4 linked regions of the Homo sapiens genome follow. The protein of the gene in region 4 purifies or fractionates together with the protein of the main gene of each other region. This does not show direct contact. Each region holds a gene or a part of one and is shown on either strand. Other genes may lie near its edges.

Evidence for each region.
Region 1: the proteins of ZNF562 (region 4) and RNF187 purify together in Homo sapiens (affinity purification with mass spectrometry; 3 studies listed by BioGRID and IntAct, with this or other methods). This does not show direct contact.
Region 2: the proteins of ZNF562 (region 4) and SMARCAD1 purify together in Homo sapiens (affinity purification with mass spectrometry; 3 studies listed by BioGRID and IntAct, with this or other methods). This does not show direct contact.
Region 3: the proteins of ZNF562 (region 4) and ISLR purify together in Homo sapiens (affinity purification with mass spectrometry; 3 studies listed by BioGRID and IntAct, with this or other methods). This does not show direct contact.

The regions. Positions count from the first base shown.
Region 1 is NC_000001.11:228,490,358-228,496,701, reverse strand, and holds the end of RNF187 (E3 ubiquitin-protein ligase RNF187), read right to left. Parts: intron 3,650-6,344; coding exon 3,428-3,649; intron 2,820-3,427; coding exon 2,817-2,819; 3' UTR 514-2,816; downstream 1-513.
Region 2 is NC_000004.12:94,202,914-94,210,896, reverse strand, and holds the start of SMARCAD1 (SWI/SNF-related matrix-associated actin-dependent regulator of chromatin subfamily A containing DEAD/H box 1), read right to left. Parts: upstream 3,033-7,983; 5' UTR 2,827-3,032; intron 2,814-2,826; exon of another isoform or gene 2,655-2,813; intron 2,552-2,654; 5' UTR 2,503-2,551; coding exon 2,313-2,502; intron 1-2,312. UniProt on the Homo sapiens protein: DNA helicase that possesses intrinsic ATP-dependent nucleosome-remodeling activity and is both required for DNA repair and heterochromatin organization.
Region 3 is NC_000015.10:74,169,625-74,176,746, reverse strand, and holds the start of ISLR (immunoglobulin superfamily containing leucine-rich repeat protein precursor), read right to left. Parts: upstream 3,038-7,122; 5' UTR 2,728-3,037; intron 2,201-2,727; exon of another isoform or gene 2,094-2,200; intron 1,897-2,093; 5' UTR 1,889-1,896; coding exon 602-1,888; 3' UTR 1-601.
Region 4 is NC_000019.10:9,641,305-9,644,135, forward strand, and holds the end of ZNF562 (zinc finger protein 562), read right to left. Parts: 3' UTR 503-2,831; downstream 1-502. UniProt on the Homo sapiens protein: May be involved in transcriptional regulation.

The sequences.
Region 1 (6,344 bases), on a different chromosome or scaffold from region 4:
GCCAACAGGTATATAAAAAAATGCTCAACATCATTAATCATCAGGGAAACGTAAACCAAATCACAATGAGATTATCTCACACTTCTTAGAATGACTAATTTCAAAGAAAATAAATGTTGGTGAGTATGTAAATTATTATAGCCATTATGGAGAAGCATATGGAGGTTATTCAAAAACTTAAAAAGAGTACCGTGACCCAGCAATCCTACTGCTAAGTATTTTCCCAAAGGAAACGACATGAATATATGGAAGAGATACCCACACTCCTGTGTTTCTTAAGAGCACTTTTACAACAGTCAAGATACGGAATCAACCTACGTGGTCTAGAAGCAAAGTGATAAAGGGATAAAGTGGATAAATGGCTTAAGAAAATGTGGTGTATACACATCATGGAATACTATTTGGCCATAAAAAAGGAAACCCTGCCATTTGCAACATGGGTGAATTTACAGGACATTTATATTAAGTGAAATAAGCCAGGAACAGGACAAATATCACATGATCTCACTTATATGTGGAATCAAAATGTTGATTTATAGAATTAGAGAGTAGAACGGTGGTTAGCAGGGGCTGAGACAAGAGGATTTGGGGAAATTCTAGTCAGAGGGTACAGAGTCCCTGCTATACAAGAATAAACTCAAGGTCTATTGCACAGCATGGTGACTTCAGCTGATAACCGTGTACTGTACGCAGTTGGCCCTCTGTATCTGACTGTCCCACATATGTGCAGAGGGAGGGCTGACTGCAGGGTACTTGAGTATCTGCAGATTTTGGTATCCATGAGGGGGTCCTGGAACCAATCCCCCTTAGGCACAGAGGGATGACTGTATTTGAAATTGCTGAGTGTAGATTTCAAATATTCTCACCACCAAAAAAAACATGAGATGGATACATTAATCTGTCACTCCACAATGTACATAGATATCAAAACATCACACTGTGCCCCATAAATATATAATTTTCTTAAATAGAAAGAGGTTGTGATTGACAGGGTGGGATGTTGCTGGTCAGCTAGGTTAGGTGAGGATGGTGAAGCCACTGTCGGACCTGGTGATGTGGAGACACTGATGTTGTGGGAGACTCTGCCATCAGGACCTGTCCGGGCAAGCATCACAGGTGTGCAGGGCAGGGGCAGGGATGCTCAGGGATGACAGCAGACTGCAGCAGGCGGAGACAGTGAGAAAGACAAACTGGAGGTCTCAGGGTCGGGATGTTGTTGGCGTGCTGACAAAGATTCTCTACTTGGCCAAACTCTGGCCAGGCTCTGGAATCTTCTCCTAGGGCCCTCTTTGCCCTTTCTTATGAAATCCAGTTTTAGCAAGAACCCTAATTTGGTTAACCATAATATCTGACCACCCTCAATGGTACCTGACTGGGTTCCTCTCTGACCGTTTGCAGCCAATGTCTGATCGCCCTGCCTGCCTGCAGCAAGGACTCTGTGAGGTGGGTTTAGCCAGAGCCCCCTCAGCCCTGATGTCTCCTCACAGTCATTCCCACCCATGGACCCTATACTGCTCCTCGCTCCTCCAACCCCTGCCCTGCTACGTCGGGGTGGAGCCCCATCTCCCCCCAGGCCCCAAGGAAAGGGTCCCACACCCATCTCAATGGTCCCAATCAAAGTCCTCCTCACCATGCTTTAGCACGTGTCACGAGGAAGTTTCCTTTGACACTGGAGGGTGGCCAGGGCAGGGGGAAGAGGCCAGGTGGACACACGGAGACGAAGCAAACGAGCTGACACAAACCCACTTTATTCAGCATTGAGCCAGCCCACACGCTGGGCAGGTCAAACTCACAGACATCGCACCAAGGGCCGGGGACTCAGAAGGGCTGAAAGGCTTCATCTGGAAATGGGCACCGCTCACAAGCCCGGCTATCCCCAAATCTCAACAACTGTCTGCATCTATGTCCCCGACTTTGCAATCCTGTCCCCAGTGCTGAGTTTCTGTCGACTAATTTATCTACACACAAGGATGCTGCAGGCAACTGAGCTACTGCTACAAGCTTTGCAAAATTCAACTACTAAAGGAAATGGGAGGAGGGAAAGAGCTAGAGATAACAGCAAGATGAGACACGATGGCAGGGCCTGGAGATGCTAAATGGGGTTAGCCACCTGCCAGCCCCCTCACCCAGGGAAACAGAGAAAGAGGCTTCCTTCTGCGGAGGCAGGTGGAGCACAGGGAGGGCTCCTGGGAGGCACAGGAGTGGGGTGGGGGCCAGGAAGGGGGAGGTGGACAGAGCGACTTGGATAAGGCTGGGCCGGGCCCACGCCCACCTCAAGAGGGGGGCCGCCTCCTCAGGAGGCATCAAGGTGCAATCCAGTCTTCCTTTCTCTCCCTGAAGACCTGAGTTCCAGCCTTCACAGAGCGTCATGCGCATTCTTCTTTCTGGATGCTAACCCCAAATCCGACACTCAATGGTGCACCTCAGGTACCTGCCAAGGATCTGTGGGCCCACATGGAAGGTGCAGGGTCTGGGTCCCTGGATGACGAGGTGAGGGGCAGATGGGTGACCAGGGAAGGGCATGACCCAGAGCTGCCGGGACTCATGGAGGATGGGCTGTGGCTAGGACTTCAGGAAGGGACGGGCACAGGTGGGAAGGGTCCTCAGGTCCAGCCTCTACCGGGAGGTGTTTGCAGCCCCCAAAACACGCCTCGGGGTGAAGGATAAATGGACATTGTTGAAACACGCAACTATGTAGATGGACCCAAGGCCAGGCGCCTGCCACGCTTCCCTGGCAGCCACACGCTGACACTTCCCATGGAGATGAGGATCCATCCTCCTGCCTCCAGCTCTGGGACTGCCACGGGTTGGCGCCATCACTGCATGGGAGGGGAGAGGGAAAGACAGAGAGACAAAAAGAGAAAGAGACACACAGAGTCAGAGACAGAGGCAAAAGGAGAGAGCGAAAGAGAGAGCGCACATGAGACAGCGCATGAGGTACTGTCCTGAGCACAACAAACCCAGGGCCTGGCCCAGACTTCCGTCTCCCCAGGGCCAAAGCCTTGTCACCTATGGCTGGCACGGGCAACTGAACCGTTCAGGGCCATCTGGGTTGCTGCAGGGTCTGGGGTTCAGGCCAGGCCCTGGGCAGAGGCAGAAGAAAAGCCCTGAGGTTGGGTTTCTTGGCTGCTTCTGCCTTCAGGACCCCAGGGCGAGGCAGGAGCCTTCCATGCTCGGGCACTCGGGATGCCAAGTGCCCTCCTTTGTGAAGGTCAGGGACACCTCAGACCCTCCTCAACTTAAAACCCCTTCCCATCACCTTCCCTGACCACCCACCCATTCCCGAAATTCAGCCCTGCAAGGCCACGGCAGTGGGAGTCAGGCTGGGCTTTTAAGCCTTGACTTCGGGCAATGGTCCCCCAATGGCTCGCTGCTGCCTGCGTCCACCCTGGCCCGATGGTGGGCAGACCCAGCGGGGCTCCCGCACCTGCAGCAGCATGCTGAGGCCCAGGTTGCGATGCTTCTTCTCCAGCTCCGAGACCGCCTGCAGCAGTGACCTGAACCGCTCAGTGGGGTCAGCCAGCTCGTCCTCAGGGAGCCCCTCCTCCTTCTCAGCCTCCTGCAGGAAATGCTCCTCCTCCTCCACAAAGAAGGCCCGCAGCTTCTTGTAGTCGGTCAGTGCCTTCTTCCTACGGTCCATCACGTGTCCCTGCAAACGGGTGGCAGGAAAAGACCTGTGTCCTCACCCACCCTCCCCAGGGGAAGGGGAACCTGTTTGCTCTTGAAGGAGTTAAGAACATGCCACTCCAAAACATGCTGCTCAGGCACATCGACTATTAGGCCAGGCACAGTGGCTCACGCTTGTAATCCCAGCACTCCAGGAGGCCAAGGCGGGCGGATCATGAGGTCAGGAGTTCAAGACCAGCCTGACCAACATGGTGAAACCCCGTCTCTACTAAAAATACAAAAATGAGCCAGGCGTGGTGGCACGCCTGTAATCCCAGCTAATCGGGAGGCTGAGGCAGGTGAATCACTTGAATCCAGGAGGCGGAGGTTGCAGTGAGCCCGAGTTCATGCTACTGCACTCCAGCCTGGGCGACAGAGCGAGACTCCATCTCAAAAAAAAAAAAAAAAAAAAAAAAAGCCAGGCACGGGGGCTCACGCCTATAATCCCAGCACTTTGGGAGGCTGAGGCAGACAGAACATGAGGTCCGGAGATTAAGACCATCCTGGCCAACCTGCTGAAACCCCATCTCTACTACAAATATAAAAATTAGCTGGGCGTGGTGGCGCACGCCTGTAGTCCCAGCTACTTGGGAGGCTGAAGCAGGAGAATCGCTTGAACCTGGGAGGCAGAGGTTGCGGTGAGCCAAAAAAAAACAAAAAACAAAAAAAAAAACAATAACAGAAGAGGCCTGGCACGGTGCCTCATGCCTGTAATCACAGTACTTTGGGAGGCTGAGGTGGGAGGATTGCTTGAGCCCAGGAGTTCGAGACTAGCCTGGGCAACAGTGAAAACCTGTCTCTACTAAAAATCAAAAACATTAGCCAGGCATAGTGGTGCACACCTATGGTCCCAGCAACTCGGGAGGCTGAGGTAAGACGATCGCTTGAGCCCAGGAGTTTGAGGCTGCAGTGAGCTATGACCATACCACTGCACTCCAGCCTGGGCCAACAGAGCAAGGCCTTTTTTAAAAAAAATCAAAAAACAGTGCAAGATCACCCTGACCTCCATTCTGCTTCTTAAAAGCAAATGAAATTCCCAAGTGAAAGACGCCCTCCCCATATCAAATAAAATGATTTTATCATCAAGGACGACAGGAAGTCAAGGCCGACAGAATTTGGTACAGACCTTGTGAAAACAACTCTTTCAAGCATCCCCACATCATGTAGTTGCTTTTTTACAAGTGGCTAGTCTTTGTCCAAGTCAGTATATAAGTGATTTAATTTTGCCACTTTGAGTCTTCATTTCATTATAAGGGAGCCTGTGCTGTATAAAACTTGTGTTAAATTAATATGCCTGGCTGGACACGGTGGCTCACACCTGTAATCCCAGCACTTTGGGAGGCCGAGGTGGTTGGATCACTTGAGGTCAGGAGTTCAAGACCAGCCTGGCCAACATGGTGAAACCCCATCTCCACTAAAAATACAAGATTAGCCAGGCGTGGTGGTGCACACCTGTAGTCGCAGTTACTCGGGAGGCTGAGGCAGGAGAACCACTTGAACCAAGGAGGTGGAGGATGCAGTGAGGCAAGATCGCACCACTGCACTCCAGCCTGGGCAACAGAGCAAGACTCCATCTCAAAAAAAAAAAATCCTATGTTTTTTCTCCCATTAACCCATCTCCCTTTATTTTTTTTTTTTTTTTTTTTTTGAGATAGGGCCTCACTCTGTCACCCATGTTGGAGTGCAGTGGTGCCATCACAGTTCACTGCAGCCTCAACCTCTTGGGCTTAAGTGATCCTCCCACCTCAGCCTCCCAAGTAGCTGGGACCACAGATGCAACACCATACCTGGCTAATTTATTAATTTTTGTACAGATGGTGGTCTCACTATGTTACCCAGGCTGGTCTCGAACTCCTAGCCTCAAGCAATCCTCCTACACCTCAGCCTCCCAAGTTGCTGGGATTACAGGCATGAACCACTGCACCTGACCCTGTTAGTTTAGCTTATGTCAGTTTAATTCTCCCGCCCAGCCTGGGGCCCTAAAAGGGGAGAAATAGAGTTCTTTCTCCCCTACACTGCAGTGCTCAGCTGCACAGGAAGACTGTCCCTCTCCCATCTCCCATGGCCAAGGGGACAGTAAATCCTTGAGTGGCCCTGCTAGGTCTAGAGCCTGTCAGGCACGTGACTGTCAGGGCAGGACACACACCCATCTTGCCAGCAACTGTCCCTGCTGTGCCCACACCAGAACTCCAATGGCTGAAAACCATCCCATCAGCCTTCAACAAACAGCATTCACACTTGCCACTCTTCAGCTGGTTTTCAGCCAACTCCTAACCTTGCAAACAGGAGAGCAGAGCAGGATGCTACTCTGATTTTACTCAGTCATGGATGGCTTCCACCTGGCCCTGGGCCACACAGGGCAGGTGACACCCATAGTCATGAGGGGCCAAGGCTTTTGTTGCTGAGAATGCAAATGACAGCTGGGTGTCTGCTGGCTGGCTGATGCAACACGCTGCAAACTCCTTCCTTTGGATTTAGGTGGCTTCTCTCATCCCAGCATCTAAGCCACAAACCCCCAAAACAGGACAGATTGAAAGCTCCAACCTGCTAAAATCTGTGGGCAAAACAATTCCCTTGGGGTAACACAGGGTTACTGAAAACTTGGAGGTCCCCAAAGCCTTCCAGCCTCACTTGCACTGGGCAGTGTTGACCACTCACAAGGCAAGGAGAAGTTCAGA
Region 2 (7,983 bases), on a different chromosome or scaffold from region 4:
AGTGGTGTGATCTAGGCTCACTGCAACCTCTGCCTCCCAGGTTCAAGCAATTCTTGTGCCTCAGCCTCCTGAGCAGCAGGGATTACAGGCACGCTCCACCATGCCTGGCTAATTTTTGTATTTTTAGTAGAGACGGGGTTTCACTATGTTGGCCAGGCTGGTCTTGTGATCTCAGGTGATTTGCCCACCTTTGCATCCCAAAGTGCTGGGATTACAGGCTTCAGCCACCGCGCATAAAAATCTTACCATTCATCTTATCTCATTCCCATCAGGGATCTAAACCCTGCCCTTCATTACTTTGAAACCTCTCATATCTCTTTCTTCTCCATTTCTACCGCTATCATTAAGCTCAATTACAGGAGTTGCCTAAATGTTTTCTTTCCCTTCAATCCCTACCCTCAATCAGTGTGTACTAGTCACTACTGCTAAACTGACTTTTAAAACTTTCTTTCACCATTTTCCATTCACTCTGTAAGTTCTTCAATGGATATCTAATACTTACAATGTAAAATCTAAACTTCTCAGTTTTCAAGATTCTCCAAAATTCACAGTATCATTTAAAACAATCTTTTATTAAAGCAAAGTGCTCCATTCCTACAAGGATTAATTCTCAACATTCCTAGAACAAACTTAGTTTTCTTATTTCCCGAAGCCATCAAGGCTGATCATGTAATTCCTAAAGCAATCTCAGTTTTTAAGCAGAATTTATGTATGGAAAAAAGTCCCAATAAAGAGAAAATGAGTGTTATCATTAGAAAGAAATAAAAACAGAAAAATATCTTCTGATCACTAAAGGAAATTAAAGATTTCACATGACCAATACTGATAAATAACTAAAACATTCCACTGAAATCCAGTTTACAAACTGCTTTCACTTTCAGAGATGAAAAAAGTGTGGATCACAGATTTCAAATGACTTGTCTAATGTCCCACATTTAACAAAAATGAAGAAGCAGAAGCTTCTATGGACTCGAAATCCCATGTCTACACCTTGGCTTTCCTGAACTATCTAACTACAGAGGAAACAGACAAATATATTCATTGGAAAAGCATTAAAATACCTGGATGTCAAATATCTATTCAAAGAGTGAACACAGGGATTAAAATCCTGGTGCTTAAAATCCTTCAGTTGTTCCCTATAGCATTTAAATTCAAAACTACTTAGACAAAGCCTTTGTAAATCTGACTCCTAATCCAATCTACCAAATCATTCTGCCAATTTCCAATTACACCAAAGTATTTAAAAATGTTATTCTAATGATAACTTGCAGAGGATCTGCCATCATTATTACATTTAAGTAGAAGGGTGGCAAACAAAAAGATACCAAGGATAAACATGTGTGTTACCAATCTTTCAGGCTACATTAAGTTAAAAGCTGTTTACGAAACAGAGTTTTGCATAAAAAAAGATATTACTGAAATAAATATTAAAATATAACTTCCAACATTCCTTTCACCTTTCCTAAGAAACTAACTAATTAGTTTATGCTCAGGAATCATACTGCCAGGACTTGAGTTCAGGCTCTACCAAGTTCCTAATAACCTCTCTGAATCTCATTTCACATTAACCTCTATGTCAGTAATATCTACCTTGTAGGATTATTGTGCAAATTAAATGACAGAAGGTGAAGCACTTATCACTATTCCTATAATACAACAAGAGCTCAAATATATTCCTCTAATAGTTAACTGTTCAATGAACATAGATTCGAGTGGAAATCTTAATTTTTGGCTTATCCTCAAATACTTTTGTCTCTGACAATCTGCTGATGAGGTTAAAAATGTTCATTCACCATGAAGAATACCAATTACTCATTTGCATTCTGAGGACATCCAGGAAGTCAGGTGGATGCAAGAACTTGATGTGATCTGATCTTCCCTTGTGTACAGAGGTTGTCTTTAGGCACCTTGCTCAATGTCTAGCTCACAGTAGATGATCAATATTTTGAGGGAATACTGGAATGAATGAAAATGTCTGCCCAAATAGCCTCAAAGTTTATCATAGGACTGAATCACTGACATCGCTCTTCCAATAGCAACCGTTCTGACCTATGGATGCCCTAAATTCTAATTTCAACTTCCACCATGGGGCCATATTCGAAGAACTCATATAAAAGTGAGGCGACAATGGATGGATGCTCAGTTGAGGGTACATGGTGCTTATGGCAGTCCCAAAGCTGTATTTAAAAGGGCACACCGCAGGACAATGCATCAATATATATGACATCAAGAATAAAAATGAGAATCCCTTCTGCCTTTCATCTTTTAAAAACTGTCCTTGATGTTACATCAATTTTAACATTGTAACTCACCTGTTTTTTCAGTTATATCTGAATCAGGAGTGTTTGCCCTGCTAACTTCCCCTTCAGCATTCTCCTCTTCAGCACTAAGAGAAATTGGTGAAGAAGGGCCAGGCTGGGAAGGTTGAGGGGTTGCTTCGGGCGCTTCCTCAATCTTATTCCTTTTCTCAAAGCGAAAACGGTCCAGGTTGAAAAGATTCATATTGGTAGAAAGCACCACCTTGCAGGGATGGGGGCTTTAAATGAACTATCTGCAGGGGAAAAATAAAGAGAGGAAAAAAGGCCATGAAAACAATATACGATACAATGCCACAGCAGTTTATTCCCAAGGCAATAAAGGGCCCGCAAACATGCCAGTGGCTCAGGACTGTTATGGCTGCGCTTCATTGTTAGGCCGCAACAATTAGAAGGTGGACGGGGGTATCTTTTAAAATTTTCCATTGCTTTTCACTCCCCTTCGTCCGCCTCCCCCGCCCGCCCCTCCTTACTGAAACCACGAGCTGACCCTCATGCAACCTCCTCTTACCCAAGCACGCGCAGGCACGTTCCCCAGTATAACCCCCTAGCGGGCCTCGCGCCCGCCCACAAAGAGAAGCTCCCTGTGCTACCGTGCCCCCTGCCTCGAGAAAGGACCTGCCAGGGCCCGCGCCTCGACACTGCGGGGACACAAAGGGGCCAAAGAAGGGGAGCGGCGGAGGCCGTGCTGGCGGGCATCCGCCCGGAAGTTGACGCGGCGCGATCCCAGCTGAGAGGAAGCTGATAGGATTAAGAACACACAGGAAGGTTCAGAGGTGGAGTGCATGCTAAGGCATCTTTTTAACGTTCAATCGCTCGCTTGTTCTTTCTTCCCTCAGTACTTACGATCTTGTAGCCTCAGTGCTATGTAACAAAGGTTGAAAATAAAAAAAAAATTTCCTAGCGTGGGGCGACGGTAGCCGTGCCGGGACCTTCCAAAACACCACGGAGAAACCTTAAGAGCGCGTAATGATGACGCAACACGCAGCCTAGGCTTTTTCTTCCCAAACAACGCGCGAGCCGACAATGTCGAGGCGCGCGCTGTTGTCATGGTAATTCGTACCCGTCTCCGCCGGCTTGTAAGGGCCAGATTGTTCTGTACCTTTGTCCTGTTAAATTATCTAGAGAGTTATTAAATAGAACAATAGTAAATAGCATAATGACAAAAAATAACAATATATAATACAATTAGTATATATTGTATGTATTATAATCTGTAGTGTTTCACCTATAATATAATGTAGATAGCATAATAGTAATAATACTGTGCTAAGCTTTTTCAGTGTATAATCCCAATCCTTACAAGAAGCCTATGTTTACAAAGCAAAGAAACTGAGACCTGCAAATGTATAGGTAATTAGTGACGGATAAGAACCCCGGGATGCTGAGCTTCAAAGCATTTAAAGTAATTCCTCACTTTCGGCTTGATTGTTCTTAGAATGGAATTTGATTAATTAATTAATTTTTTAAAAATATTTTAATTTTTAATGTTTGCGGGTACATAGTAGGTGTACATATTTATAGGGTACATGAGATATTTTGATACAGGCATGCAATGTGTAATAATCATATCAGGGTAAGTGGGGTATCCATAACAAGCATTTATCCTTTGTGTTTCAAACAATCCAGTTATTTTAGTCATTTAAAAATGTACAATAAGCTGGGAGTGGTGGCTCACGCCTGTAATCCCAGCACTTTGGGGGGCTGAGGCAGGTGAATCACAAGGTCAGGAGTTTGAGACCAGCCTAGCCAACATGGTGAAACTCCGTCTCTGCTAAATATACAAAAAATTAGCCGGGCGTAGTGGCGGGCGCCTGTAATCTCAGCTAATCGGGAGGCTGAGGCAGGAGAATAGCTTGAACCTGGGATGCGGAGGTTGCAGTTAGCCGAGATCACTCCACTGCACTCCACCCTGGGCAACAAAGCAAGACTCTTGTCTCAAAAAAAAAAGTACAATAAATTGTTGTTGACTGTAGTCATGCTATTGTGCTATCAAATACTAGATCTTATTCATTCAAACTGTATTTTCGTACCCATTAACCATGCTCACCGACCACCGGGGTCCTCCCCCGCCCCACACTACCCTTCCCAGCCTCTGGTAGCCATCGTTCTACCGTTTCTCATACGTTCAATTGTTTTAATTTTTTAGCTCCCACAAATATAATAAATGAGAACATACCAAGTTTTTTTTCTGTGCCTGCCTTATTTCCTTTAATATAATGACCTCCAGTTCCATCCATGTTGCAAATGACAGGATCTCATTTTTTTTAATGGCGAAATAATACTCCACTGTGTATATGCACCACATTTTTCTTATTCATTCACCTGTTAATGGACACTTAAGTTGCTTCCAAATCTTGGCTGTTGTGAATAGTGCTGCAACAAACATGAGAATGCAGATATCATTTCGATACACTGATTTCCTTTCTTTTGCATATAATTCACCTATCTTGATGGAAATGTTAGCTTAAGAATATATACTCCTGGCCGGGCGCAGTGGCTCACGCCTGTAATCCCAGCACTTTGGGAGGTGGAGGCGGGCGGATCATGAGGTCAGGAGATCGAGACCATCCTGGCCAACACGGTGAAACCCCGTCTCAACTAAAAATACAAAAAATTAGCCGGGCGTGGTGGCGGGCGCCTGTAGTCCTACCTACTCGGGAGGCTGAGGCAGGAGAATGGCATGAACCAGGGAGGCGGAGCTTGCAGTGAGCCGAGATCACGCCATTGCACTCCAGCCTGGGCAACTCCATCTCAAAAAAACAAAGAATATATACTCCTGGGCTAGGAGCAGTGGCTCACGTCTGTTATCCCAGCACTTTGGGAGGCCAAGGCAGAGCTGGGGCAACATAGTGAGACCCCATCTCTAAAAAAAATACAAAGTTATCCAGGCATGATGGCACACGTCTGTAGTCCCAGCTACTTTGGGGGCTGAGGCAGGAGGATCACTTGAGCCTGGGAGGTCGAGGCTGCAGTGAGCCATGTTTGCACCACTGCACTCTGGCCTGGGTGACAGAGCAAGACCCTGTCTCAAAAAAACAAAAAACTAAGATATACTCCCTTTGTTCCAACATTAGACAAGCAATTTTCTGAGTTATAATTTGAGCTTCTGGTTGGCATTTCCCATAAAGAGGAATTGCTACAAATGATCATTCTGCCAGATATATTAGCCATTGTAAACTTAAATTGCCAGTTTGTTTTATAAGTCAGTGTTGTGAATTGTATATTTACAACACATACCCACAGTTTTATCAAATGTGGGCACATTTATAAAATCAGGTGTCTGGGCCAATAAAACTCAAGATCAAAGCCTGAACAATTAGGACTTCCTTTATACCTATCTTTAATATCCCATGAAATGCATTAGTTTTATGCATGCATATTAAATTATGTGATCAAAGAATATATTTACTTATGGCCAGGCACAGCGGCTCATGCCTGTAATTCTAGCACTTTGGGAGACTGAGGTGGGAGGATCACTTGTGGCCAAGAGTTCAAGACCAGCCTGGGCAACAAAGGGAGACTTCATCTCTCTTTTTTTTTTTTTTGAGACAGGGTCTCACTCTGTCACCCAGGCTGGAGTTCAGTGGTTCAATTGTGGCTCACTGTAGCCTTGACTTCCCAGGCTCAAGCGATCCTCCCATCTCAGCCTCCCAAGTAGCTGGAACTACAGGTACTTGTCTCCATGCCTGACTAATTTTTGCATTTTTTGTAGAGATGGGGTTTTGCCATGTTGGCCTGGTGGTGGGGGTGGGGGGAGGCGGGTTGGGGGCATCAAGGCTGCAGTGAGCCATGATTGAAAGAAAAAGAAAAGAAAAAAATATATATTTACTTGTAAGTAGTAAATTATTTTTGGTGATGAAGACAATTTGATTTCTATTTAGAGAGATCTGACATTGAAAATGGACTCCTCTAGCTGAATGACCTTTCTAAGTCTTACTTTCATCATTCTTTAAATGTGATTAACAATAATATTGACGCTTAGAGTGCTTTTCTGCAACAGTACCACCTCTTGACGTTATAGCTGGGACAAGATTGAAAATGAACCACATAAATTAAAAATGTCTAAATATTTAAACATTATAAATATAGCCAACAAAGTGTAAAAGTTAAATATGTTCTTCCTATTTTGAAAATACCAGGGAAGCCAGGTTGAATTTAGAATTTCTATTGTGTCAGAATGTGGGTTAATGAAAGAGAATTGATTGGCTCATATATCCTGCCTTGCTAGTGTCACCTTTTCATACACAATTTGATACTAATGGTATCAATAACGATATCATAATGGGCCATGTGCTTATGCACATAGATGCCCAGCATATGGACACCCAACTCTGGCCCCCAACTAGGGTTACCATATTTGTTTTTTTTAAAAAAGGGATGTACAGTTAAATTTGAATTTTAAATAAACAATGAATACATTCTTAGTATAAATTTGTCTGATGAAATACTTGGAACTGATACTAAGACATTATTTGTTGTTTATCTGAAACTCAAATTTAACAAGTTGTCTTGTATTTTATTTGGCAAACTTACTGCTCTCCCACTCCTTTGTCACCTCTTGGACCTTGGGGCCTTTTGGCTACATTTTTGGCCTAGGGTTATAGATACTGAAAGCACTGTTTGCCCTCAGTAGGAAGGACCTCGGGAAAAGTCACTGTTAGACTTCTTGGGGCTGTGTGAGCAAAGAATTTTAGGGACCAGGTACTCAAATTATTGTCTAAAAGTGAAGGCACAAGTTCTGAATGAACACGTCTTCTTGGCCCCAAAGATTCCTTTAGGGCAGGGCATAGCTGGAAAGAACTAGATTTTGCCCTTTAAAGCACTAGACCAGGATAGGGACTCCTTTTGACCAGTTCTAAGGGTAGGATTTTTCTGCAACCTTCATTGACCTGGGAGAATTATAATGATTCATGATTGGGGTTCTCTTTGAAAGTGAAGTAGAAGTTTAAGGGTATGTATTAGTTTGCTAGGGCTGGTATATTAACAGCCTGGATGACTGAAACAACAGAAATTTATTTTCTCTTGGTCCCTGAGGCTAGATTTCCACTCTCAAGGTTTTGGTAGAGTTAGTATATTCTGAAAGCCATGAAGGAAAGATCTGTTGCAGACAATAGATGAAATCAATGAATTAGCCAGGCGTGGTGGCACACGCCTGTAGCCCTGGCTACTCAGGAGGCTGAGGCAGGAGAATTGCCTGAACCCAGGAGGCAAAGGTTGCAGTGAGCCATATCATGCCACTGCTTTAAAGGGTGACAGAGCAAGACTCCATCTCAAAAAAAAAAAAAAAAAAAACAATGAAATATGAAGAAATGATAAATATAAGATTCAGAGAAGTGAGAATGAAGCTTTGAATAATAGGTGTAAACAATCATACATACTCACACACACATACCAAAAAAAAAAGAAATAATGAAAAACATAATAGAAAACGTTCATGGGCTTTCATTTAGTCTGCATGTGAAAGAGCTTAGTGAATTCAGGCAGAATCAATTGAAAGAGACTATACAGTAAAAATATCCTGCAGAATTTGTTTTAATTTCAAGAATTTAAAAAATGTCTTGCAAGCATTTTTCAGAAAAAATCTACAGCCTACAAAGGGAAAGAAATCAAGCAAAAGCTTTTTTGTTAAACGTCAGAAAGTAATGATGCAATATTTATAATGATT
Region 3 (7,122 bases), on a different chromosome or scaffold from region 4:
AGGGAGGAAGGGTAAGAGGAAGGAAGGCCATCCTGGATCCCCACATTTCAGTCTCAGATGAGGACAAAGGGACTCCCAAGCCCCCAAATCATCAGAAAACAGCAAGGAGCAGGAGGAGCTTGAGCAGGCCCCAGGGAGCCTCAGAGCCATACCAGCCACTGTCTACTTCCCATCCTCCTCTCCCATTCCCTGTCTGCTTCAGACCACCTCCCAGCTAAGCCCCAGCTCCATTCCCCCAATCCTGGCCCTTGCCAGCTTGACAGTCACAGTGCCTGGAATTCCACCACTGAGGCTTCTCCCAGTTGGATTAGGACGTCGCCCCGTTAGCATGCTGCCCCTGAGAGGAGAGCACAGGCAATGCTGTTAGCAGCAATGAGCACCGCAGACAGTGAGTTAGGGGATCAAATTCTATCCTAGTCACTAGTTTGGAGCAGGTCTAGAAGTTGGGGATAGCAGGTGCTCTAGAAGAGATTAGAAGGAGAGGTAGGAAAATGTGAAGTCACCCATGCAGGCCTCAGGAGTTGCCAACCCCAGACCCCTGCAGCACTTAAAGGGGCATTGGTAGGGGCAAGGGGAGGAGTTAGGGAAGCCCTGGGTGGGGCTAGAAGGAGGTGAGGAAGAAGAAGAGGAGGAGGCTTTGGCCCAGCAGGAGCAGGCCTGGGGGCAGCTGCCCAGGGACCCCTTCTGCGACTGCAGCCTCAGGGTTCCCAGCACGGCTGAGGTAGATGATGACCACATTGTCCTCCGGCCCTGATGGCTGCACCTCGTTGTCAACCGTATAGCAGCCCTTTCCCTCAACCGCTTTGCCATGGAACCTGCGCCCCAGTGTGTCCTCACCACCCTCACCGGGCGTGGCCAGTGCCACGTCCACTGAGCTCTCAGCACTGCCCAGCTCATTGGTGGCCAGGCAGCTGTAGGTGCCTTCCTCCAGCTTGCCAAAGTCGGGGATAAGCAGGCTGCCATTGGCAAAGGCCTGGAAGCGCGGCTGGGAGCTGGCCACAGGGGTGCCAGGCAGGGCACGCCCATCAGTGCCCACGTTGGGGCTGGTGATCTCCACAATGCCACTGGGTATCTGGATGTGCCAGTGAAGCTGAGGGGCCGGCTGCCCGTCCACATCACAGTGCAGTGCCAGCACAAAACCAGGCCGCAGCTCGGCACCATCCTGGCTGGGTTGGTAGCTGAGCTGCACTGAGGGCGCCGAGCATGGCAGTGGCGGCAGGCGGCTCAGCGGCGTACCCTTGAGCACATGGGGTGAGGTGCAGGCGATGTTGTCCTGCTCCGGGATGGACACGGCCGTGGTCAGGGCCCATGTCTTGAGCCACACGATGCCGCAGGTGCAGTCGAAGGGGTTCTCGTTGATCTGCAGGTGGGACAGCGCGGTGAGCGGGGTGAAGGTGCCCTCGGCCAATGTGTGCAAGCGGTTGTGGTTGAGTTGCAGCGAGCGCAGAGCACGGAGGCTGCGGAAGGCGTCGCGGGGGATGAAGGTCAGCTCGTTGCTGTCCATCTTGAGCAATTGGAGGGCACTGAGGTTGTGCAGGTCGCTCCAGGCAAAGTCAGAGATGAGATTGTGGCTGAGGTCCAGGCTCTTGAGATGGCTCAGAGAGGCCAGGGCTCCGGCGGCCACCGTGCGGATCTCATTGTGTGCCAGCCACAGCGACTGCAGCAGGGGCACCTCCCTGAAGGCACCCTCCGGCAAGCCTGGCAGCCGGTTGGCTGACAGGCTCAGTGTAGTCACATTGGCCGGGAAGCCAGGCGGCACGGATTCTAGGTCGCGGTAGGCACAGTCGGCGATCTGGAAGCCATACTTTTCCCCACAGTCGCAGGGCTCAGGGCAGGCCTGAGCCAGGCCCAGGAGAAGCGCCCACCAGAGCAGATGCAGCTCCTGCATGGTGCCTCCTGCAGAGAAAGGCATGTCACCCAGGGGATCCCGAGAACCTGCCAAAGGGACTCATTCCTCCCACAAGCCCAGCCAGAGCTCTTTCCCATCAGGAGGCCCTGTCCCACATAACCCAGCTAAATCCCAACACCACCTAGCCCACCGCCCCCATCCTACGGAAGGAGAAACTGAGGCCAAGAGAAGGGCGGAGACTTGCCCGAGGTCACGCAGCCAGGCAGGATGAAGACGGGATGGAAGAGGACCCCAGCTCCTCCTCCGAGTGGAGAGTTCTCCCTGCCTCGGCCTGTTCCTAGCTGACTTTATGACTTGAAATCTGTTTTCCAGCCACCCCCCTCCCCCAGCACTTTGCAGAACCTCCCCCTGCCCTCCCACATCCTGGCCGCAGTCCCTCCCACCGGAGCCCCCCATAGGTATGCTTTGCCTTGGCCCAGACGAGGCCCCTTGTGCAGTGCACACCACCCCCATCCACTCCACCCGCCCTCTCCCGCTCCTCCGGCCATGACCGCAGCAGACACCAGGCCTTTTCTGTGGAATCACACCCGTGGCCTGTTCTGTTCAAACTTAGCCAGGCAGCTGCCTAAATAAACCCCCGCCAGGACCTCTCAGCTGACTTGGGTGAGGCCAGAGGCTCAGCCCAAACGCAGCTGGGATTTCTGGGGCCTCAGTTGTGGGTTGTGGAAGAAGCAGATGCCCCCTGGACGGCTCCAAGCTAGGGATTGTCCCACGCACCTCAGACCAGCAGGGATGGACCAAGAGGGAACCAGCCCCTATGTCCAACAGGCCTCCCGCTCCCGCCGCTGGCCCTGGAGCCCTCCTCCCCACTGGCTTACCTTCAAGCTACTCTTAGTCAAGCGGAGCCTCTTCTAAGGTGGAACCAAAAAGCAACAGAGGACCTTAGCCCTGAGAGTCTGCAGGGCCACGGGCGCCCAAGGGAGGACTTGGATGCTGGGGCGAGGGGCAGCCTGGTCCCACCCCACCTTCGATGTGCAGGCCTGTGCCCTCCCTGCCCCAGACAGGGTGCCTGGAACCATCCACTGAGAGGAGGCGGCAGGGAGGAGCCCGGGGCAGCCCGCGCACTCCCTCCTTCCAGCAAAACAACTGCTTCTCTGCAGCAACAAGGACCTGTGTTTCATAAGTGACACCAGAAACTTGAGGGGGGAAGAGATGCCAAATTTTTTTGGGTTGTGTTTTTTCTCTCTCTCTCACTCACTTTTAGCAGCTTCAACTTCCTTAAAGACACAGCACTGTCTGGAAAGGACCCAAGAAATGATGGGGCCAGGAGGATTTTAGCGGGGGAAGGGCGAGAAATTGAATCTCATGGAAGGTGGGAGATTTCCACTTCAAACAAGAAAAAACGGGAAGCTTTTGTCCAAGCCAGGGTTGTATGTGTGTTGGTGTGTATACGTGTGTGTGTGTGTACAAGTTTGTGGGTGTGAGGGTGCGTATTTCTGGATTTGTATGTGTGTTTGCATGGATGTGGGTATGAAACCATGTACATGAGTTTGTGTGTGAGTGTGTGTGTGTGTCTGTCTTGGTGTGGGTTTGTGTGTGGAAGTGAGTGTGCATCCATGTGTGTGTGTTTCAGTGAAAAGCCAAGAAGGCCAAAGTGTACAAAGCAGATACCAACCCTTCGGTGAAAGCCAAGATGTTAGGCATTTTTTTTTTTTTTAAGAAAACATATCCTGCTGGCTCTGAGACTGAGCTGCGCTAAATGCATGTTGTTGTCCAGGGAGCTCCCAAGACTCCAGGCCCCGCCCCTCACTGCGCTCCCCACTGGCTGGGGAGGAAACAGGGAGGCCTGGCTCAGAAAACTCAGGGCGGGAGCCTGTTGACCTTCAGTGCTCCTGGCTGGGATTCTGAGCCACCCAGGCCCACTGCCCACTGGGCACCCAGAGGGGAGGCCAAGGGGCCGCACTCCCGGAGAGTTCTCTCTGTGTCCCCCACAGGGCCCAAAATCCCACTGTTGGTGCTGGACATCTACGCGGTCAGCATCGGCCTCTCTGAGCTCCACTGTTCCAACACCAACTGTGTGGAAGGGGCAGACGCCTCCAGGGTGAGGATATGTGACCCCTTTTCCAAACGGGAAGGCCCAGGGGAGGGGAATGGGGAAACAAAAGAGGCCCAAAACGAGGGAGCTGGAAGAGAAACCGAAAGATGAAGGAGCCCAGAAAAGAACTTTGTAGACTGAAGAATTTTGCTCTCCACAGACAAGCCTACCGTATCCCCTCAGTAGCCCTCCCCAAGCTTCCTTGGCCTTCCATCTGATAACTGGTTGAATTCTGCTCATGACTCAACTTACCCTCTCAGCAGGGCCAAGGGCAGACAGGGCTCATCTTTGGCTGAAAGCATCCCCAGGAAGCCTGCCCCAGCTCATCACACCCCATTCCCTGTCACCAAGCAAGGCCACAGAAGTCCCCAGCATGCTGCCTGCAAAACACCCGAGTCTGATGCTGAGGATATTATTATGGTCCAATGGAGAGCACCCTCTCTTTCCCCTGCAGAGGAAGCCCTCTCTTGCATCATCCTGACTGTGCTGGAGAATTTCTAGGAAAGTCCTGAATTTGGTGGGCCAACCAGAGGCTGCAAGAAACACATCCAGGGTTCAGTAAACCAGAGGGGAGACTCAGTGACCTCAGTGTCAGTCAGGGAGGGCTTCCTGGTGGAGGGGGCTTCACTATGTTCTGCACAGCCCATACACACACCCTCACCTGCACAAAGTCTGTGCCACCAGCTTTACCTCCAGGGTGCTCTGAGGAGCTCATAGTTCCCACCCCACCTCCCTCCTTGCAAGCACATCAGGGTCAGAGTACAAGCACCTCCTCAGCCCTCAGTTCCCAGTGACTGTTCTCTCAGACATTCCTGACTTTTCTTCATAGCTCCTCCTATAAGCTGTGATTATTTATTCATGCGTGCTTAATGTGCGACCCCTTACTAGAGAGGAAGCCCACTGAGGGCAGAGGCCTTAACTTCCCAGGTGCTATTGATCTCCAGCACAGGGAAGACACTCTGTAAGCGCCCCCTTCATGGCATGATGGACAAGTTGGGTGGTCATCAGAAGGAAGCATTTTAGAGCTCACCCACTTCATCTCCTCATCAACTTACAGATAGGGCCTTTGGGCCCAGGCTAGGGAAGGGGCATGCCCAAGACATTTTAGAGAATATTTCATACAGTGTAGGAGACCCATGCTCTGTTGGGTGGGTGAGTATGTCAGCAGCCTTCTGGGGGCAGGGAGTCTGTCCCCTCATTCCCTACCTAAGACCTTAATGACAGCCAAACACTAAGCTCAGACTCCCACCTCAAAACAGATGTGGGGGGCTGAGGGCGGGAAAAGTGGGAGGGACCAGCCCACCTGGGCAGAAATGAGACTGTGCGTGCTGGTCACTGATGTATCTTCCTGGTCTGCTCAGGTCCTGCCACTGCCTGCAAGGTGTGGCCATACCCGCTTCCACCAGGAAGGACAATAAGGCCGCCAGGATCTCAGCCAAGGACTATTGACTCTCCAAGGTGTCTCACAGTGGGACAGGTGGGCCTGCTCCTCAGCAGAGCCCAGGAGCAGTTGTGCAGGCCTCTGAGGATGGGGCGTATGACCTCCTGGGTTGCCCCTCTGCTCTTCTCTTGCTGTCAGAGCTCAAGTTCTTTCTGTAAAGCCCACCTCACAGGAGATCATGCCAGCAGGCAGGGAGACAAGTCAGAAGTCGGGCTCCCTGATCTTTTCAGGCTGGGAGCTTCCTGTGGGCTGTCTGGGCTGCCATCTCCCCTCTCCTGGCCTCCTCTAAATTGGGCTCAGGCCTGAGATGGGGACCCTTGGTGAGTATGTGCGGCCCTGACTGTCCCCAGAACTAGGAGGCCAAGCTTGGGAGCCCCTCCTGTGAGTCCTGGCCCTGTCTCCTGTGGGTCCCTGGCAGCTTGTAGGGTGACCAGCCAACAGTCCTGGTTCACCTGGAACTGATGGGTTTTCTGGGACATGGGACTTTCCATGCTAAAATCGAGACAGTCTCAGCAAACCAGTACAGTTGGTCACCCTAGCAGGGGAGGGGGGCTCACTCCCTCCCACAGTTTTTCTTTCCCCCTGCTCCCCTTCCTGCCTGCAGAGGTCCAGCCCTCTCTCCTCCCATTCCGCTGCCTCTCGCTCTGCTCCTGCTCCTGCTGCCCCTAGCCAGGGCGCCAGCCGCACCCCAGCTGTGGCTGCTCAACCAGGACTCCCCCACCCCAGAAGGCCTCACTCCCACTGACCAGGGGCACCACGTCAGCTTTTCCTGGAAGGCAAAAAAAAAGATCCTGATGAGAAGATGGAGCGAGAGGGACAAGCCCAGCAGAGACAGAAAACTGGAGAGAAACAGAGAAATGAGAGAGACACCAGGAAAGAGAGGGAAAAACAGAGAATCACAGCCTCCTTTCTGGAGGTAGAGAAAGGAAGCAAGGGAGAAAGACCCAGAAAGAGAGATGGAGGAAGAAGGTCTGAACCCGGAAACAGGCTCTGAGAGGAGAGAGGCAGTCGGGGGCTGCTGTGGTCAGCTGTGGTTGTGGGCTGTAGCCATCCCACCAAGAGGGGCAGAGTCTATCTTGGTCCCGACACTGTATTCCCCCCAGCAGCCTGCTGGAATAGCTGGGAGGAAACTCGGGGCACTCCTGGTGGGACTTGGTTAAGCCTGTGGGTGTCCTGGGAGAGAGAGGCTGTTGAGAAGATAGGGTTATGGAAGGAGCTTTGGACAGCTGGTGGGACTGCGTGCGTGCATGTGTGTGTGTGTGTGTGTGCGCGCGCACACACACACAACATGCACATGCATGGGGGGACATAGAGTGATCTGCCTAGGTCACCAAATTATGAGGCTTCCTTTTTCTAGGCCTTAGTGCCTCTGTCATACGTGAGAGTTGGTCTAAAGTCCTTTGGCCCCTATATTCTGCCTGTTTAGAATTCTCAAAAATGTCTACACTAACACAAGGGGCCCGTGTGCATGCGTGTGTTCATGCACAATTTCTGTGTGCATGCATGTGAAAGGTGAGCCTGTGACTATTCTCCATGTGTGTGTGTTGTTCATGCACAAGTGTGGGGATGTGAGGTGGAGTGAGCAGGAGCTCGTGGCATGTGCACCCAGGGCTGTGGATGGGGGAGAGGCACTGCAGGCCCTATCTTCTCTTCTGGCGTCACCCTAGCCCAGAGGTTGCAGCTGACCTTACCTGGGGTGGCCTCACTCCCATTTCCTCCCCATTCTCCTCCACCCCT
Region 4 (2,831 bases):
GCATCCCTGACTGAGTCCTGGGCTTTAATGTGGGTGAGCAGCCAAAGCAGGCATCCCTGCAATTGACCTGCCATCAAGGGAATGTGGGTGAATGATCAAGGAAGGCATCTCCGCAGTGATCAAACGCCAAGGGAAGACTGTCTTCCCAAGTCCATGACCAACATCGGAGTCTTTGGATGCACGGATAAAATGTGTCTGCTTTTTGTCTCTACTAGGAAGGGAGAGAAACTGAAACTGAAAGAAGAGAGATTGAAGGGAGGTGAGAGAGGTTAGGTAGAGAGCAAAAAAACCGCTTATCCAAGTGCAAAAAAACCGCTTACCGATTTGAAATTAGTGAGACGATCCTTGGGCTGGCTGGTCTGATGACCCGAGGTCATAGGTGGATCTCCTCATGGAGGGAGTGTAATGACAGGGGATGGGTCTCCTGAGGAGTTCTAATGTCCCAGGTTTCAGCACAAAATGTTACATGCGTCTGAGTAAAGAGAGCACCTAGCAGGCTTTGTGCGAGCAACAATGGCTGTGTATTACATCCGGATGTGGATGGGCTGTCCAACAAAACAGTCAGCAAAGGGTGGTGGGATTATCATTAGTTCTCATAGGTTTGGGATAAGCGGTGGAGTTAGGAGCAATTTTTTTTGTAGGCAGTGGGGTGGACGTTACAAAGTACATTCTCAAGGGCGGGGAGGATGTTACAAAGTACATTCACAAGGGCGGGGAGGGTGTATCATCACAAGGGTGGGGAGGAAGGTTACAAAGTACATTTACAAGGAGAGGAAAGGTGTACTGTCACAAGGGCCAATGGCAGGGTACATTCACTAGGTGGGGGAGGATGTATCTTATAAAGTACATTCACAAGGGCAGGGGAATATCACAAAGTACATTATCACAAGGGCGGGGGGATGTCACAATGGCTTGACCATGGTATGGCCAGCTCAGAGTACCTTACAGTTCTGATGTTTAAAATTACATTCTTTTTTTTCTTTAAAAAAAAAAAAAAAAACAGGGTTTCACTCTGTCACACAGGCTGAAGTATAGTGGCATTATCATGGCTCACTGCAGCCTTTACTTCCTGGGCTCAAGCAGTCCTTTGCCTGAGTACCAGGGACTACATACGTGCACCACCACATCCAGCTAATTTTTAAAAATATATTTTGTAGAGAAGAGATCTCTCTATGTTGCCTAGGCTGCCCTCAAACTCCTGAGCTCAAGCGATCATCCTTCCTTGGCCTCCCACATTGTTGGCATTACAACTGTGAGCCACTCTGCTTGGCCCTTTATTCTTTTACATATTTAATTTTTTAAAAAATCAACAAAGATAGAGGGAAAACCCAAAATGGAATACGAACAGGAACAATCAATCTGAACTTTGTATCAAATGGGTAATAAGACTATGTAACAGGAACAACACAACAACAGTTGCTGCCTAGACATTAGAAATAGAGGCCAGGCACAGTGGCTCAACCCTGTCATCCTAGCATTTTGGGAGGCTGATGCAGAAGGATAACTTGAACAGGATTTCAAGACCAGCCTGGGCAATATAGTGAGACACAGTCTCGACCAAAAAAAAAAAAATTTAAAAATAAAAAAATTAGCCGGGCCTGGTGGTACATGCCTGCATTCCCAGCTACTCAGAAGGCTGAGGTGAGAGGATTGCTTGAGCCCAGGAGGTCGAGGCTGCAGTGAGCTATGATTGCACCACTGCACTCCAGCCTAGGTGACATGGCAAGACACTGTCTCTGGAAAAAAAAAAAAAAAAAAAGAACACCACCGGCCACTGTGGCTCATTCCTGTAATCCCAGCACTTTGGGAGGTTGAATCAGGCTGAATCAGGGGGGTCTCAGGAGTTCAAGACCATCCTGGCCAACATGGCAAAACCCCGCCTCTACTGAAAATACAAAAATTAGCTGGGTGTGGTGGTGCACACCTGTAATCCCAGGTACTTGGGAGGCTGAGGCAGGAGAATCACTTGAACCCAGGAATTGGAGGTTGCAGTGAGCTGAGATCACGCCACTGCACTCCAGCCTGGGTGACAGAGCGAGACTCTGTCATTCATAAATAAATAAGTTTAGAAAAAAAAAATGTGTCTGAAAGGGTCTTGAGCATCCCTCTGGGCAAATTCCAGGCATCATCCATAATGATGAATGCACAAATACAAAGATACGAATGAGCCAGAGCCAACCTTATATTCCTGCAGTAAATGCCACTGGGTTTACTATTTTCTTATCAAGCAGTTGGAATTTATTTGCTAATCCGTTCCTTCCTAGCTTCCTTTTTTCCTTCTTTTTTTTTTTTTTTTAAATGGAGTCTTGCTCTGTTGCCCAGGCTGGAATGCAGTGGCATGATCTTGGCTCACTGCATTTTTTAATTTTTAAGTTTTTTGTAGATGGGGGGCTTGCTATGCTGTCCAGGCAGGTCTCGAACTCCTGAGCTCAAGTAATCCTTTTGCCTCCTTTCAAAGTGTTGAGACTCCAGGCATAAGCCACTTTGCCCAGTTGCTACTATTATACTTAGCGCATTTTTTTGTTTGTTTGTTTTTTGAGACAGTCTTACTCTGTATCCCAGGCTGGAGTGCAGTGGTGTGATCTCGGTTCACTGTAACCTCCTGCCTCAGCCTCCCGAGTAGCTAGGAATACATGCACATGCCACCACGCCCAGCTATATTTTTTTAGTTTTAGTAGATACAAGGTTTCACCGTTTTAGCCAGGATCATCTCAATCTGACCTTGTGATCCACCTGCCTCAGCCTCCCAAAGTGCTGGGATTACAGGCATGTGAGCCACCGTACCTGGCTTACTTAGTGAATTTGTACCAATATTCATTACCAATATAATT